4 linked regions of the Homo sapiens genome follow. The protein of the gene in region 2 purifies or fractionates together with the protein of the main gene of each other region. This does not show direct contact. Each region holds a gene or a part of one and is shown on either strand. Other genes may lie near its edges.

Region 1 (3,638 bases), on a different chromosome or scaffold from region 2:
GCCGCCCGGGGGCACCACGCCCTCTCCCAGGGACCCCTCGCTGGCTGACCCCTCCCCCCCGCCCCCTCACCCGCTGACCTCTCCCATCCCTGACTCCTTACTCGATGACCCCTCACCTGCTGACTCCTCCCTGGCCGCAGGCAGCGGGCGGAGCTGGAAGAGCTGAGGCAGCAGCTGGAGGAGAGCAGCTCTGCACTGACCCGAGCCCTGAGGGCTGAGTTTGAGAAGGGCAGGGAGGAGCAGGAGCGCCGGCACCAGGTCTACCACCGGAGGGCTGTGCTGGGCCTGGCCAGGGGGCTGCACGGGGTGGGACTGACTGGCCTCTTATGTCCGCCCCCCAGATGGAGCTGAATACCCTGAAGCAGCAGCTGGAGCTGGAGAGGCAGGCGTGGGAGGCCGGCCGCACCAGGAAGGAGGTGGGGGCCTGGGCACCCAGGTGGGCAGGGGTTGGGGGCTGCCCTGCGTGGGCAGGAGTTGGGGGCTGCCCCAGGTGGGTTTTGCTGCTGCTGTGGCATCCTGGGGGCTCGTTTCTGGGAGTCACATCTGGCTGCTTGGGGTTGTTGTCTGAACTGACGCTGAGTGTGTTGCTTTCAGCCCATCTTTTGCGTGGGCTCTGGAAGGATCAAGGGTGCCTGGAGCGCATCCTCTGTGGTCCGAGAACAGGCGTTGCCCCTCTCGCTAGGGGCTGCTACACCCCTGCGCCCCACGACCAGCCCACTGACACTCAGATGTACCGAGAGGGACACGCACAACAGGGGCTCCCCCCTTAGCCTCTGGGGCCTTCTGTGGGGGGTGGACTCTGCCACGGTGACAGTCCCACACACATTCTCACCACCCATGCCCGCCGCGAGGCTACAGTCCAGGCTGACCGTGCCCGTCACCTGGTTTCACACCCTGGTGGGCTGGGATGTCACCGAGCAGCCAGGCAGGCTTTGGCAGTGGATGCCTCTGGGCCCAGTAGCATGCTCCCGACGTAGCCCTGTGGGGCCCAGGGCTGGACAGATGAAACTCTGGGAGTTTTCAGAGGCTTCCAGGAGGCTGCCAGCTTAGGCTCTGAATGCCTGGGCTTGGGGGCCCAGGCCCCGCCCTCAGCAACACGCAAGTCCAACTTTCCCATCCCATCTGGTAGCAGAAGGTGGCCTCAGGTTGTCATGGGCTGTGGGTCTCTGAGGGAGGGGACCGTGGGCTGTGCATCATGACGATCTCTGGTACGCCTATGCCCACACTGGGTCCTGACAACAGGACGTAGCGCACCCCTGGACAGGGGTCTGGAGAGGGGGAAGGCCCCTTGCTCCCCTGTGGCTCAGAGCCTGGAGCCCCCCAGGACCCCCTGAGGCTGGCCCTGGCCCCGCGGGCCGGCTCCGGGTGGCAACCCCCAGGCAGCGCATGTCCCCCCAGGAGGCGTGGCTGCTGAACCGGGAACAGGAGCTGAGGGAAGAAATCCGGAAAGGCCGGGACAAGGAGATTGAGCTGGTCATTCACCGGCTGGAGGCCGACATGGCGCTGGCCAAGGAGGAGAGTGAGAAGGCTGCCGAGAGCCGGTAAGGACCCGCCATGGCTGGGTCACCAGCTGGGGAGGCCCACGAGCTGAGGCGCAAGGACCCGTGTGTGACTGGGCTGGAGTGACCCTGCCCTCCCCCCACCTCCAGCATCAAGCGCTTACGGGACAAGTACGAGGCCGAGCTCTCCGAGCTGGAGCAGTCGGAGCGGAAGCTTCAGGAGCGGTGCTCGGAGCTGAAGGGCCAGCTTGGGGAGGCCGAGGGCGAGAATCTGCGTCTGCAGGGCCTTGTGCGGCAGAAGGAGCGGGCGCTGGAGGATGCGCAGGCGGTGAGTGGGCGGGTGTCAGGTGGGCAGTGGGCACCCACAGGCCCCTCCTGCATGCACGCAGCCAGTCGCTGGCAGCCGGCTCACTGCCTTCTGTGCCCACCCAGGTGAACGAGCAGCTTTCTAGCGAGCGCAGCAACCTGGCCCAGGTGATCCGCCAGGAGTTCGAGGACCGGCTGGCAGCCTCTGAGGAGGAGACGCGGCAGGCCAAGGCCGAGCTGGCCACGCTGCAGGCCCGCCAGCAGCTGGAGCTGGAGGAGGTGCACCGGAGGTGGGCGGCGGGGGCTGCAGGGCTGGAGACGGAGGCGGGGCAGGGGAGCGGGCAGGACCTCTGCAGCTCCAAGCCCCAGGAGGCTGTGGCTGAGGAAGGCCAGGAGATGCAGAGACAGGGCCCTGTAGACAGAGGCTGGTGTGGGTTCCATGTTTGGGGCCCAGGAGACCTAGATCTGTTTTCCTCCCTGGTGCTTAGTCTAGGGTGTCGGCCATCCCTGTTGGGGCACCCGAGTGGGTCGGGTCTGGGCCTGGCGAGTTCTCCAGGGAGTCAGCTCCCGGGGCCCTGGGCTGGGTGGACAGGCGCTGAAAGAGCTGGGGCACTGTAAGGTTCCCAGCGAGCTCCCTCCACGGGGGTCCTGCATCCTTCCTGTGCCATCTGCTGCCACAGGCTGAGAGGTGGGTGTGGGCGAGGTGTCCCACCCCATCTGGGTACCAGGCCTCCCCAGGTGTGGCCAGGGTCATACTCCAGTGGCCTGTGTTGGGTCCTGACTCACAGCAGGTGGGTTGCCTGGACAGCTGTCTGGGCCAGCCACAGGAGTCGTGGTCAGCAGGGCTGGGACCAGGCTGACCAGGCGGCTGCCCCGTGCACCCTGTGCACTGCAGGCCACTCTGGGGACATGGGGCGGGGGCCACACTGAAGCCTACCATGTACTACCCACAGGGTGAAGACAGCCCTCGCGAGGAAGGAGGAGGCCGTGAGCAGCCTCCGGACACAACATGAGGTGAGTCCCTGTGGCCAGCCCTGCTGGACCTCGGGGCTGGGAGCAGGCCTGACCCTGTGGGTGTGCTGCAGGCTGCGGTGAAGCGGGCCGACCACCTGGAGGAGCTGCTGGAGCAGCACAGGAGGCCCACGCCAAGTACCAAGTGACCAGGGATGCCGGGAACACTGTCGAAGAACGGAAGGCAGAGGACAGAGGCTGGACGTGGGCCCAGAGGCCCACAGGGACGCCCACCTGCCCCCCACAGAGGCTGGTGGTTGAGATGCCCACGGCTAAGCACCTGTGGCTGCATTTTAACAGTAAAGGAGGCCGTTGTTTTCAGCGCCTTGAGTGACTGCCTTGTCTTCTCTCCTGGGCTAGAGGCTGCCCAAGACCCCCAGAGCAGCCAGGCGTGGGTTTGGCTCTCTTCCTCCCACTCCCCTCCGCAGCCTGAGCAGGCTGACCAGGAAATCACGAAGCTTGGCCATCAGCCCCCCAGCTAGCAGCCCTCAACACTCAGCCAGCAGCCCCCAGCACTCAGCCAGCAGCCCCCCTGCACTCAGCCCTCAGCTCCCCAGCATTCAACCCAACCCCCAAGTTCCTGTTCCCTGCCTTGCCCTGGACCCTGGAAGTCCCAAGCACAGGGAATTCCCTACCCCGTTCCTGGCCAGGCGCAGGAGGAACTCAGCAGAACTCACCCCCTGGGAGGAGCTCCGAGGGCCCCGCCGTGGCCCTGCAGGTGCTGGAAGCCCATGGCTGCCAGCGTGCTCCTATGGCTGGAGAGACTCCAGAGGGACAGGAAGCCCTACCCTCCCCGCTGTCAAGGTGTGACAGTCTGGAGCT
Region 2 (3,500 bases):
ACAAAGAATATGCATGAAATGCTCTCACACTGATAGAAGGGTCTTCATAAATATATAAAGTTCCTTAATTGTTAATACCATATACAAGAAGACACTAAAAGAATGAAAGCATAAAACAGAATCACTGCAAATGTCATAAAACTCATTGGAGAATAATAGTAATATCTAGCATCTTTTGAGAGTAGGTAGACTTAGATATATGTATGAATGTCTCTGTCTCTTTTTTTTTTTTTTTTAAAGAGACGGGGTCTTGTTCTGTTACCCAGGCTGGAGTGCAGTGGTGTGATCATAGCTCACTACTAGGCCTTGAACTCCTGGGCTCAAGTGATTCTCCTGCCTCAGCCTCCTGAGTAGCTAGGACTATAGGCATGCACCACCATGCCCAGCTAATTTTTCTTTTTTCTTTCTTTCTTTTTTTTTTCTTTCTTTTTTTTTTTTAAATGATGGGGTCTTGCTATGTTGCCTAGGCTGGTCTCAGACTCCTGGCCTCAAGTGATCCTCCTACCTTGGCCTCCCAAAGTGTTGGGATACATGTGTGAGCCACTAGGCCTGTCCGTATGTATCTCTTAAAGGCAGAAAAGCAAAGTGAAAAGTCTCCACTAAGAAACGGCATAGGCTGGGTGCGGTGGCTCATGCCTGTAATCCCAGCATTTTGGGAGGCTGAGGCGGGCGGATCACTTCAGGTCAGGAGCTCGAGACCAGCCTGGCTAACATGGTGAAACCCGGTCTCCACTAAAAATACAAAAAATTAGCCAGGCATGGTGGTACATGCCTGTAATTCCAGCTACTCAGGAGGTTGAGGCACAAGAATCACTTGAGCCCGGGAGGCAGAGATTGCAGTGGGGTGAGATCGCGACACTGCCCTCCAGCCTGGGGGACAGAGTGAGACTCTGTCTCACAAAAAAAAAAAAAAAAAAAAATGGTATAGATTCTGTTGTTAATCTACTCATACGGCAACAAATCCCTGTATCCAAAAGTTAGAAACTGAAGTGCTGATATCACTGGCAGGACAACTGACTAGATTATAAAGCAAGAACTCCACAGAAGTACCCGATACTGGAAAGGTGTTTTTAAAAGATGCTGAATAAAGAGCACCTTCAAGAGTTTATCAAAAGTGATACATGCTATCCTGGCTGGGCGTGGTGGCTCAAGCCTGTAATCCCAGCACTTTGGGAGGCTGAGGAAGGTGGATCACCTGAGGTCAGGCGTTCCAGACCAGTCTGGCCAACATGGTGAAACCCCATCTCTACTAAAAATACAAAAATTAGCTGGGTGTGGTGGTGCATGCCTGTAGTCCCAGCTACTAGGGAGGCCGAGGTAGGAGAATCGCTTGAACCCGAGAGGCAGAGGTTTGCAGTGAGCCGAGATCGCACCACTGCACTCTAGCCTGGGCGATAGAGCAAGACTCCATCTCAAAAAAAAAAAAAAAAAAAAAAGTGATAAAGTGATACATGCTATAACATGATGAACCTTGAAAATATGCTTAGTCAAAGAGGCCAGTCACAAGAGACTACATATTGGCTATCTAGGGCTGGAGGGTGAGATGGGGGTAGGGGTGGTGCAGCTGCTGCTGCTTGGGAGAAAATGGGGAGCAATTACTAAGAGTATAGATTTTCTTTCTGGGCTGATGAAAATGTTCTAAAAGTGATTGTCACGATAGTTGCTTACTCACACATGTTTCAGATGTGTTCTACTGGACGGTTGCCTCAGGGGAACAACTATCCTGCAAGGAGGTGCCCCAGTACCTTAAGCTTTTCCAGTATGAGAGTAGCTTTAAGACAAGTTCAGGCCAGGCGCAGTGGCTCACACCTGTAATCCCAGCACTTTGGGAGGCTAAGGCAGGCGAATCACTTGAGGTCAGGAGTTCGAGACCAACCTGGCCAACATGGTGAAACCCCATCTCTACTAAAAATACAAAAATAAGCTGGGTGTGGTGGTGTGCGCTTGTAGTCCCAGCCACTCGGCAGGCTGAGACACAAGAATCGCTTGAACCCGGGAGGTGGAGATTGCAGTGAGCTGAGATCGTGCCATTGCACTCCAGCCTCAGCGACAGTGCGAGACCCTGTCTAAAAAAAGAAAAAAGAAAGTTCAGTGGTTGATGGGTTGGACGTGGATCTGATGGATCTGATATAGCAGGCCTCCATAAAACTCAGAATTCACATGTGACCGTTGGCTCTGGGGCACTGTGAAAGAAAAATGTTCACAACTCTACCTAACAATATTTAAAGATCTTGAAGCAGCAACCAGGAACTGTTTGATTTTATACATCAACATGAAAGAAGCCACTGAAGGGAGGTAGGAGACTGAGGAGATGTTGGTTAAAGGACACAACATTTCAGTTAGATGGGAAGAATATGAAGATACATGAAAATACTTTGTAAATTTTAACGACTATATAAATGTTAGTTATCAACATTATCCTGTCCCAGTTTCCAGGTACCTACATCAATTATATCACCTTAATAAAAATATTAAGTGTAATATTATCTTAATCATTTTTCATGTGCAAATCATATATTTAAACATCTTTATAGTCTATTAGGATAAGACAGTTGTTCAGGCACCATGTTAGGCACATGCCAATGGCTTATTATTAGATTCTAATTTCTGTCTTTTCTCTTTTTCTATGGTACTTTGGAGGCATAAGAAAACTAAAGTTTATTTCAGTTGGATTAGATGTTGACAGCCATTATTATTCTATATTTAGTTATATAAATACTTTTCTGTTCTTGAAAGCTAAGTTGAATAATTAAATTATAGCCTTTCCCCCAAACAAAAATCCTTTACCTTAACAGTTATATTTTTTGGGCCAGTTAAATTTTAATTACCAAGGAAGTCACAATGTCTCCCATCTCTTTTGGGGTTAGATACCAGAATATAACAACTCAAAATCAAACACTCCAGCATTTTTTTTTCTTTTCTTTTGAGACTCAGGGTCTTGTTCTGTCACCAGGCTGGAGTACAGTGGCACAATCCTGGCTCACTGCAGCCTCAACCTCCTGGGCTCAAGTGATCCTCCCACCTCAGCCTCCTAAGTAGCTGGGATCACGGGCACGCACCACCATACCCAGATAATTTTTATAATTTTTCATAGAGACAGGATCTCATCATGTTGCCCAGGCTGGTCTCAAATTCTTGAGCTCAAGTGATCCTCCTGCCTAGGCTTCCCAAAGTGCTGGGATTAGAGAGGCATGAGCACCACACCTGGCCCAGCCTTGCTGCTTCTAAAGCAGCACTGATCCTTAATATTGTGGTAATTAATTTAAACTATTAAGTGGTTCTACAAGTCTTCTCTCTGGCTGGGTATGGTGGCTCACGCCTGTAATCCCAACACTTTGGGAGGCAGAGGTGGGCAGGTCACTTGAGATCAGGAGTTCAGGACCAGACTGGTCAATATGGTGAAACTCCATTTCTACTGAATATACAAAAATTAGCTGGACATGGTGGCGCATGCTTGTAGTCCCAGCTACTCGGGAGGCTGAGGAAGAATCACTTGAACC
Region 3 (4,268 bases), on a different chromosome or scaffold from region 2:
CCAGGCTCCCACTTCACACGTCCCAAGGCACACCTGGCCCTCCCCAAGCACCCTGCACCCACAGCCTGCCTGGTACCACCCATCCATGCTGATGGCAGCAGCTCCTGGGCACTCGGGGCCTCAAGGGCCAGAGGGCGGGACCTTCTTCAGGTAGCAGGTGAGACAAACGTTTTAGAAACAATAATGACCAAGGGCCAGGGAGTAAGGGCCCGAGGCGGCCGGGGCAGGCTTCTGTCTCCTGCCTCAGGCTCACGAGGCCCTGACTGCTCAGAAGAGGCTATCCATATCCTTCCTAGCTGACCCTGTGTCCAGGGGAGGCATAGGGCCGCATGGACCTCCGCTCCCCACTCCTGTGGGGCCGTGACCAAATGGATGGAGACAGGCCAGTGTGGCAGGTTTCTTCTGAACACAAAAAACCACAGTGTGATGTGTCCACCAACAGAGAAGCTTGCCCTCCTAGCCCCAGCCAATGACCCTGTGAGTTACAGCCACAAGGACTCTGGCCCCAAGGGTGACTCTGAGGGCAAGGACACGCTGTGCACAGTGCAGCAGGCCCCATCTGGGAAACACAAATGGCTCAGTTCCTCTCCCATTTTCAGCGCCCCAGCCCACAGGCGGGTCCTTCAGCCCCAGCCCCACACCCATTCAGGGACCATCCCCTGAAGCCCAAGGCATGCCTCCATCATGAGCTCCTCTGCCCATGGCCCAGAGAGGGTGTGTGACTTGCCCAGGGCCACAGAGTCATGACACTGGCCAGGGTCTGTGCTAGCTGACTGGAAGACCTGCAGAGCAAGCTGCCCTGTGCCTGGTTAGCAGCGGGGACAGATCCCGTCAGAGGCCCAAGCATGCAAGGGCTTGGCACCCTGCAGATGGGGTCTCCCATGGTGTAGCCTGTGCCTGTGTGTGTATCGTGCAGGCTCCAGAAGACGCTGATGAGCCTTAGAGCCTGCTGGTCATGTCTGGAGCCACCTAGCCAGCGCTGGGCCTAATGACTGAGGGAGCAGGCAGAAGTGGTGTGAGGCCCCTCGGTGGAAGGGCTGCTTCTGGGCTGGTGGAGGGTCCGGGTCACCTGCCTGGCTCCCACCTGGGAATGCATGCAGGCACCAGGCCTCGATCCAGCCTGTTCCTGGACAAGGGCCCTGGCTCCTCAGCTCTGGGGGTGCAGAACACGGGGAAATGCGAGGGAGGGAGCACAAAGCGGGGAGCTCGTGGCCAGGCTGTGAAGTGTTTCTGCTCAGTTCTGTCCGCCCCTGCTGTCAAAGCCTCCAGCTTCATGGCAGGACAGACTCTACCTGCCCTCACCCTCCTGCTCACAGTGGGCGGCTGCAGCCCCAGAAGACGCAGCACTCAAAGCTGGGGTTGCCACCTGCCACGATCCTGGCCTGCAGTGACGGGTGGGCACGAGGGCCCCGATTGACCCGAGGGCTTTCCCCTCCTGGGAGGAACTCATTCCTCAGCCGCACACAGTGGTCTGACCACACCGTGGGTCTTGGCAGCCAAGCTCGAGCGGCTGCCACTAGGGCACATAACTGCAAATGCCAGGTCAGCACCAGAGCACAGAGGGATGGAGGTGAAGCCGGCACCTTGGGAAGGGCCAAGACATGGTCTACACCAACCCCATACCCAGGTCCCCTGGGCGTTCAGATGGCCCCTGGCCACCTGAAGGCAGGAGCCTGGTGGTGAGGGCAGCCATGGGCCACAGCCACAAGGCTCCCTTCTCTAAGTCCCTTCTCCCTGGCAGCGACGTTTCTGAATGACAGCCTCCTCACCCCTGCAAAGCTCAGGGCCTCTGCCGTGGAGGGGCTGGAGCGTCTACCTGCTGCCCTCCCGATGTGGCCTGGTGCCCCCTCCCCTCCCCAGCACCGTCACGGTCTGCAGGTAGGAGGACACGGGTATATCACCCCTGGTCTCTGCATGGGCCATGCCCTTCACTGGAATGCCAGTGTGAGTGACCGCCCCTTGGTCAGACCTCTCCACCTTTAAGACCCAGCTCAAAAAGATAAGCGGTTGCCAGTGCAGGAGTGCGAGAAGAGCCCAGAGCACCCAGCAGGCACATGTAGTATGCACAGTGGGCCGGCTCTAGTAGCCCCAGATGGCACGCGACCTACTGACCATCACGGGTGGGGGTGGCAGCAGGCTCAGTTACCACGTGTCCGACGGCAGCATCCTCTCTACACAGCTGAGGGGACACAGCTGAGGGGAACAAAGGCCTCTCTGCCTGCGCCTGCAGGGGCAGTGTCTTGAGGGGACAGTGAGACCCCAGGGCAACTGAGGCAGAGTTGGGGGCCAGAGACAGGGAGGAGAGAAGAGGGCTCGATTTTCTGGGTCCAGCCATTGAAATGACTCGGGTTTTTTGTGTGTGAGCCACTTAGAGAAGCCGTGAGCAATTTACTCTTTGGTTTCTGAAAAAGCTGGGAGGGTGAGCTGCTGAAGACAGACACTCATTTGAAAGCCATCTAAGTCCGGGGCCCTCAGAGGACTGGAGGGGAAGCTTTCTCCTTTACTGCCCCAGGCCTGGCTCTCTCCTCTGCCAAGGCCTTCTGTGCACAGGAGGTCTAGCAGGCACCAACAGGGGCAACGGCAGGGGAAAGGGGCACCTGAGCCAGCGAAAGCCCTCATGGTCCCTGGAATGACCAAGCCTGTCAGCCTCACCTGTCCTTCCTGCGCCCATGTCCCACATAACCCTTCTGGACCAAGGCCTCCCGCTGCAGGGACAGCTGCTGGGGAACCACACCAGGGAGGCGGGTGTGTTCAAAGATATTAGCAGTGCTGGCCCAGCGGCTCTGCGTCTTGTAATAAAATGGCGCAACGGACACTGCACCTGGGGGAGCCTTAGGAGCTGACCGAGGCCCCTGCCCTAAGGCCCAATGGCTTACGCTGTCCCCACGGCTCCCTGTGCACCTTCTCTGCTCAGAACATTGCCATGCCCTGGGTCCCCTTGTTCTGTCCCCTAGACACGGCCTGTGGTATAGACAAAGGGCCAGCCAGACTCTAGAAGCTGCCTGTGAGGCCAGCAGCCAAATGTGGGTGTTCCTGCCCCTTTCTGCAGATGTGACAGCTGATCCAGGCAGGGTGACCTGCCCTTGGCCACCGTCCAGTTCCTACCTACACCTGCCTGAACGGTATGGAAGCCACTACCTGGCACGCCCCTCCATAGCCGGTGGGACTCTTTAGGAGCCAGAGGCGTCCAGTCCCATGCCCAACACGCAGAGCCCTCCCCTCCCCTCTGCCTTGTCCCCTTCCCTCTGCCAAACACTGCAGGCACTGCTGGCCACAGGCACGTCCTGGCCATCCTCTGGTCTGGTGCCCCAGCTGCGCCTTGCCCTGTCCCACCTCCTGTGCTCCGTCCTCTTTCCTCCATTGCATGCGTTGCCAGACGCATCTGCTGTTTACTCTCCAGTCTGTCATCTGCCAAAAGGCGGGGTGGAGGTGTCAAACAGAAGCAGGAAGAGGGCGGGGTGTGGCGAGGTGCAGAGGACTCCCCAAATGGCCCACCCCAGATCTAGGCAGCTCTCTGACATGTGCTCTCTGGAGGTGCCAAGGGGGCGGCTCATGGCTCAGAGGTTTGAGGAATGGTCTGCACACTCACGGTGGTCCCCAGCCCCTGCCCTCAGGAGCCCAGGCTCATCTAATCCCTGCCTCGCACCCCCTGCTGAAGGGTCTGTGCCCCAGAGCAGTCTTCCCTGCACTGACACCTGGGACCCCACAAAGCAGGGGCTTTGTGCCTATCACTATCCAGCAGGGTCTATCCATTCAGGTGCTCCAAGTGCCTGCCAGCAAGGCTTCCAGAAAGAGGGGAGAGAGAAAATAGAGGAGATGATGACAGAAATAACCAGAATTGGAGTACATCATTCACGGAGACTGAAATGGCTGACCAAGTGCCGAGCAAATGAATGTGGGGAATGAACAGAGGACTAAAAAGTTGACCCTTGAAGCATCTGGACAAAAAAAACAATACATAAATGGCATGCTTCTCCATTGCAACGCCGTATGTTAGAAACCATTGGAGCACGGTCTTCAAAAGGCAGAAGGAAAATGACCAATCTCATACCCAGCCAAACTATCAATCAAGTATGGACAGTAGAGATGTGTTCAGACATACAAAGACTTAGGAAATTTACCTTCTGTGAATCTTATTTTAGGAAGATCCTGGAGTAGGCATCTCATTTAGCAAAAAAGGAAAAGAAAAAACAGAACAAACAAACAAACAAACAAACTTGGAAGCCAGGAGCTCCAACCCAGGGGACGGTTCCAGGATGTCAGCAAAA
Region 4 (4,268 bases), on a different chromosome or scaffold from region 2:
TCAGGGCCTGTGGCTTGGGATTCTCCTTTGAAAGGTCAGTGCCTGCTTGGGGGTGGGGGCGGGCCAGCACTCACTGTTTGCTTCCCCAGGCCAGCTGGAGGTGATCTTGGACCGGCGGCTGATGCAGGATGACAACCGGGGCCTAGGCCAAGGGCTCAAGGACAACAAGAGAACCTGCAACCGTTTCCGCCTCCTGCTAGAGCGGCGAACCGTGGGCAGTGAGGTAACATCTGGGGCTGACGCCCAGGGAGCCAGGTCTGGCTAGTCCCTGGGGGTGGCCGGGGGGTCCAGCCTAGGGCTCGAGGAGCGTAGTTGGAGGTGGGCAAGAGAGAGAGAGTAGGGCTGAATTCCTGGGGTGGGGGGAGGCAGTCTGGCGTTTTGTGTCCCATCTCACGCAGCCTGGCACCTTCCTCTCCCAGCAGCGCTCTGTCACCTGTGCCCCTCATGTTCGTCTCCCACTTTCCTCTGTGCTGCCCTCCTCTGCCCTGTCCCAGCATTCTCTAAGCCTGTGCTCCAACCCCGCTCATCTCATGGCTTTCTTTGCCCCACCAGCCTGACTTTTTCTCCAAACTGGCAGCCATGTTTAGGGGCTTGATCTTTCACAGCAGCAGGAGCGGTAACCGAGAGGTAAGGGTCGGCTCTGGGAGCGGGGAACTAGTACGAGCAAGGTGTAGCTGCGCCAGAGCCCAGGTGACAGAGCCCGCCACTCAGTCACTCGTGCATCAGATAGATATTGAGCACCTGCTTTACTGTGAGGACCCAGAGGGACATAAGTGCAGACAGTGCTGACTCTCCCAGGAGTTTACTCGTGAGTAGGGGTGGCAGAGAAGCCATGTGTGTAAAAATGCAAGGTAGAAAGGGCTTTGTCTCACTGATCCTGAGGAGCAAGGTAATAATGTGGGCTAAGGAGATCGAGGTCAAGGAGGTGTCACCCAGGTGTGGCTTTGATGAATGGGGTGTGATTTGAAGATATGAACCAGGGCACAGGATAGGAGGCAGGAAAGACAACAGGCTGGGGAATAGCAGTGAGTTCCTTAGTTATGCTGGAGCTATGCTATCCAGTACGGTGGCCAGTAGCCCTATATGGCTATTTAAATTACAACTAAATCAAGTAAAAAATTTGCTTTCTTATTCCTACTGACCACACTTCAAGTACTCAAGTGGCTAAGTGGCTGCCGTATTAGACCATGTGGTGTCGGATATTTCCATCCTTGCAGAATGCCCTCTTGGCTGGTGCTGGGCTAGAGTGCTAGGGGGAGATCAGGGCAGACGGCAGAGCACCTTGAGTGCCTGCTAAGGGATCTGGACTTTATCCTGGCTAGGAAAGGTCCAGGCTAAGGAAAGAGCTGAGCAAGGAGGGACACCGTCAGAACTCTGGTCTCAGCATGTCACGCTGACAGTACGGAGCAGGTTGGATCTGTGGGAAGGGAGACTGGAGGAGGGTGACAGCGGGAGGCTGTTCAGGCAGGACATGCTGGCTGCTTGAACTAGGCCAGAGGCTGGAGAAGTTGCCGGTGGCTATGAGGACACTGCCCAGGTGCGACGGAAGAGGGTTTAGCATTACCTGGGAATGCAGAGGGAAGTGAGAGATGCTGGGCGCTTGGAAGAAGGGGGATGCCAGGGACAGAAGTCCAGAATATTCAGCCCAGGCCTGTGAGTCTGACGTCCAGGTGAGCTGCTAAGGAGTAGCCCTGCTGGCAGAGCCCCGGCCGCGCTGGGCCTGAGAGCCAGGCTGGCACTGTGGATGTGGCATCGCTCGTGAAGCCGCAGATTACCCAGAGCACTCTGGATTGGAGGTCCGTGCTCCATGGTGAGGCCTGCGTCTGCCTGGCTGCCATCCTCCCTGCACTGTGGATCCATGTGTGAGGGGAGACATGGCTGATGGGAGTGGGTTGCTCATGATAGTGTTATGTGAGCAAGGAACTAAAAAGTAGAGAAGAAACAGCTTAGTGAAGTAGCCCTCTGCGTTAGGGGAGACGGCAAATGTCCACACTTGAAGGGTTAGCGGAACCTCGCCTGGAGCCAGGCGTGCCCTTGAGTCCAGGCACACCAGGAAAGGTCTTTCCAAAACAACTGACCTGGGTGTGCTTTTATCCTGCCTCGTCCTCTCCCCTCAGCCTGGCTTTGGTCCCTCACCAATATCTCGGGTCAATTTTGCAGGTCCAAGATAGCCACTCTACCAGCTACCCATCCCTCCTCAGCCACCTGACCTCCATGTACCTGAACGCCCCGGCGCTCGCTCTGCCTGTAGCCAGGATGCAGCTCCCAGGCCCTGGTCTGCGCTCATTTCATCCTCTGGCTTCCTCACTGCCCTGTGACTTCCACCTGCTCAACCTACGTACGCTCCAGGCTGAGGTGAGTGTCCCTCAGCGTGACATGCTGAGAGCAGAGTTCTGATGGTGTCCCTCCCTGCTCAGCTCCTTCCTTAGCCTCCAGGATGAGGTCCAGACCCCTTAGCAGGTATTCGGCTCCAAACCTCCAGGACCAGGTTTTGGCCTTTCCTTACCCACACGCCTCCCTGTGCCAGCACTGCCTCTGGGCAGAGGCGCTGCTGCATCTCCGATCTCTGAAAGCCCTGCGCCCACTTCCCTGGGCACTGTCTGTCATCCAGGAGGACACCCTACCCTCGGCGGAGACCGCACTCATCTTACACCGCAAGGGTTTTGACTGCGGCCTGGAGGCCAAGAACTTGGGCTTCAACTGCACCACAAGCCAAGGCAAGGTGAGTAGGGTGGGGAAACAGAGCACCTAGGAATGGCAGGCATGAGCTTGGTAAGACTGGGCTGAGATTCGGTGACAGGCTGGGAGAAGAAAGTGTCACTCCAGGGCTTTCTGGAGAGAAGGGGGGAAGCTGTAGACATGTTTTCAGAGCTCCGGAGGCCTGGCAGGGGGAGTTCCAGACAAGGTAGATCGCTTGAGAACTTTTGTTCCCTGAGCAGGGACCTCTATCAAGCAAAGTGGAAAACACCAGAAATAGAAAACCAGAACCCATCCTGTTGTTACTTTGTAAGCTCATATCAGCCGGCACTGATAAATGTCCCCGGGTGCCAGGTCCTCTGCTGGGCTCCAGTGTTTCAGAAGTGAACCAAGACATGGTCACTGTTTTCACAGAGCTCACAGCTCAGTGGAACGGTTCTTACCCAGAGATCTGTAGGCAGGCTTTAGGGTTGAGCAAATCTCAGCAAGCCCGTGAGACTGGATGCACACTCATGTGTAAGAAGGCATGGTGTTGCTGAGAGGGGCCAGCCGGAACTGGAGTGCAGTGGCGTGATCGCAGCTCACTGCAACCCCCGCCTCCTGGTTCAAGTGATCCTCCTGCCTCAGCCTCCCGAGTAGCTGGGATTACAGGCGCCTGCCCCCACGCCCAGCTAATTTTTATATTGTTAGTAGAGACGGGGTTTCGCCATGTTGGCCAGGCTGGTCTCGAACTCCTGACCTCAGGTGATCCACCCGCCTTGGCCTCCCAAAGTGCTGGGATTACAGGTGTGAGCCACTGCCCCTGGCTGAGATTCTTAAAGAGGTACCAAATTGTAGATGAACAGCCACATTCTTTAGTGTCTCGGCACCTAGCACAACCCTGCCCCTTCTCTGCTCTCCACAGGTAGCCCTGGGCAGCCTTTTCCATGGCCTGGATGTGGTATTCCTTCAGCCAACCTCCTTGACGTTACTGTACCCTCTGGCCTCCCCGTCCAACAGCACTGACGTCTATTTGGAGCCCATGGAGATTGCTACCTTTCGCCTCCGCTTGGGTTAGGGCTTCTTGTGGCCTGAAGAGAAAGTTCATTCACAGAGACTGCCTCTTAACATGAAGATCATTGGACAAGCCACACGGGTATCCCATCCCGATCTGCCTCCCAGAACTGTGACACACTGGGCTCTGCCCTCATTTTCTGTTTATTGCTGCTGCTGTGTTTTCGGCGCAACCCACAAACCCAGTGATGGGTAAATAGGGCAGACGCCAGTGAGATCAGGGAGAGAAGGCCCTTGGTCAGAGTGGGCAGTGCCAGGCTCTGCTTTGGGTTGTGAGTGGACACCCAACTGGGCACAGGCTCAGGCACCCATCCTTTTTCCAAACAGGGATATAGAAGTGGTGGAAGCAGACAGAAGAGGTAAGGGAGGCTAAGTGGGTAACAGCCCAGCATCAGGGTCACTGTGGCAACAGCAGGCTCTAGGGGAATCCTGTGGTTATGTAGAGACTCCATGTCCTGGTGTGATGAGCAGGATCAGAGTGACTCTGGGAGGACAGGGGTGGGGACCCAGAGTTAGCA

The links. The genes of interacting proteins can lie anywhere in the genome.
Region 1: the proteins of TMEM59 (region 2) and CEP131 purify together in Homo sapiens (co-immunoprecipitation; 2 studies listed by BioGRID and IntAct, with this or other methods). This does not show direct contact.
Region 3: the proteins of TMEM59 (region 2) and HS6ST1 purify together in Homo sapiens (affinity purification with mass spectrometry; one large-scale study listed by BioGRID and IntAct). This does not show direct contact.
Region 4: the proteins of TMEM59 (region 2) and MAN2A2 purify together in Homo sapiens (affinity purification with mass spectrometry; one large-scale study listed by BioGRID and IntAct). This does not show direct contact.

Annotation. Positions count from the first base shown.
Region 1 is NC_000017.11:81,189,096-81,192,733, reverse strand, and holds the end of CEP131 (centrosomal protein of 131 kDa), read left to right. Parts: intron 1-140; coding exon 141-258; intron 259-341; coding exon 342-416; intron 417-1,383; coding exon of another isoform or gene 1,384-1,398; coding exon 1,399-1,541; intron 1,542-1,649; coding exon 1,650-1,827; intron 1,828-1,931; coding exon 1,932-2,095; intron 2,096-2,758; coding exon 2,759-2,819; coding exon of another isoform or gene 2,820-2,890; coding exon 2,891-2,965; 3' UTR 2,966-3,138; downstream 3,139-3,638. UniProt on the Homo sapiens protein: Component of centriolar satellites contributing to the building of a complex and dynamic network required to regulate cilia/flagellum formation.
Region 2 is NC_000001.11:54,032,705-54,036,204, forward strand, and holds part of TMEM59 (transmembrane protein 59 isoform 2 precursor), read right to left. Parts: intron 1-3,500.
Region 3 is NC_000002.12:128,270,369-128,274,636, forward strand, and holds part of HS6ST1 (heparan-sulfate 6-O-sulfotransferase 1), read right to left. Parts: intron 1-4,268. UniProt on the Homo sapiens protein: 6-O-sulfation enzyme which catalyzes the transfer of sulfate from 3'-phosphoadenosine 5'-phosphosulfate (PAPS) to position 6 of the N-sulfoglucosamine residue (GlcNS) of heparan sulfate.
Region 4 is NC_000015.10:90,916,034-90,920,301, forward strand, and holds part of MAN2A2 (alpha-mannosidase 2x), read left to right. Parts: intron 1-89; coding exon 90-223; intron 224-552; coding exon of another isoform or gene 553-627; intron 628-2,160; coding exon 2,161-2,355; intron 2,356-2,611; coding exon 2,612-2,722; intron 2,723-3,601; coding exon 3,602-3,754; 3' UTR 3,755-4,268.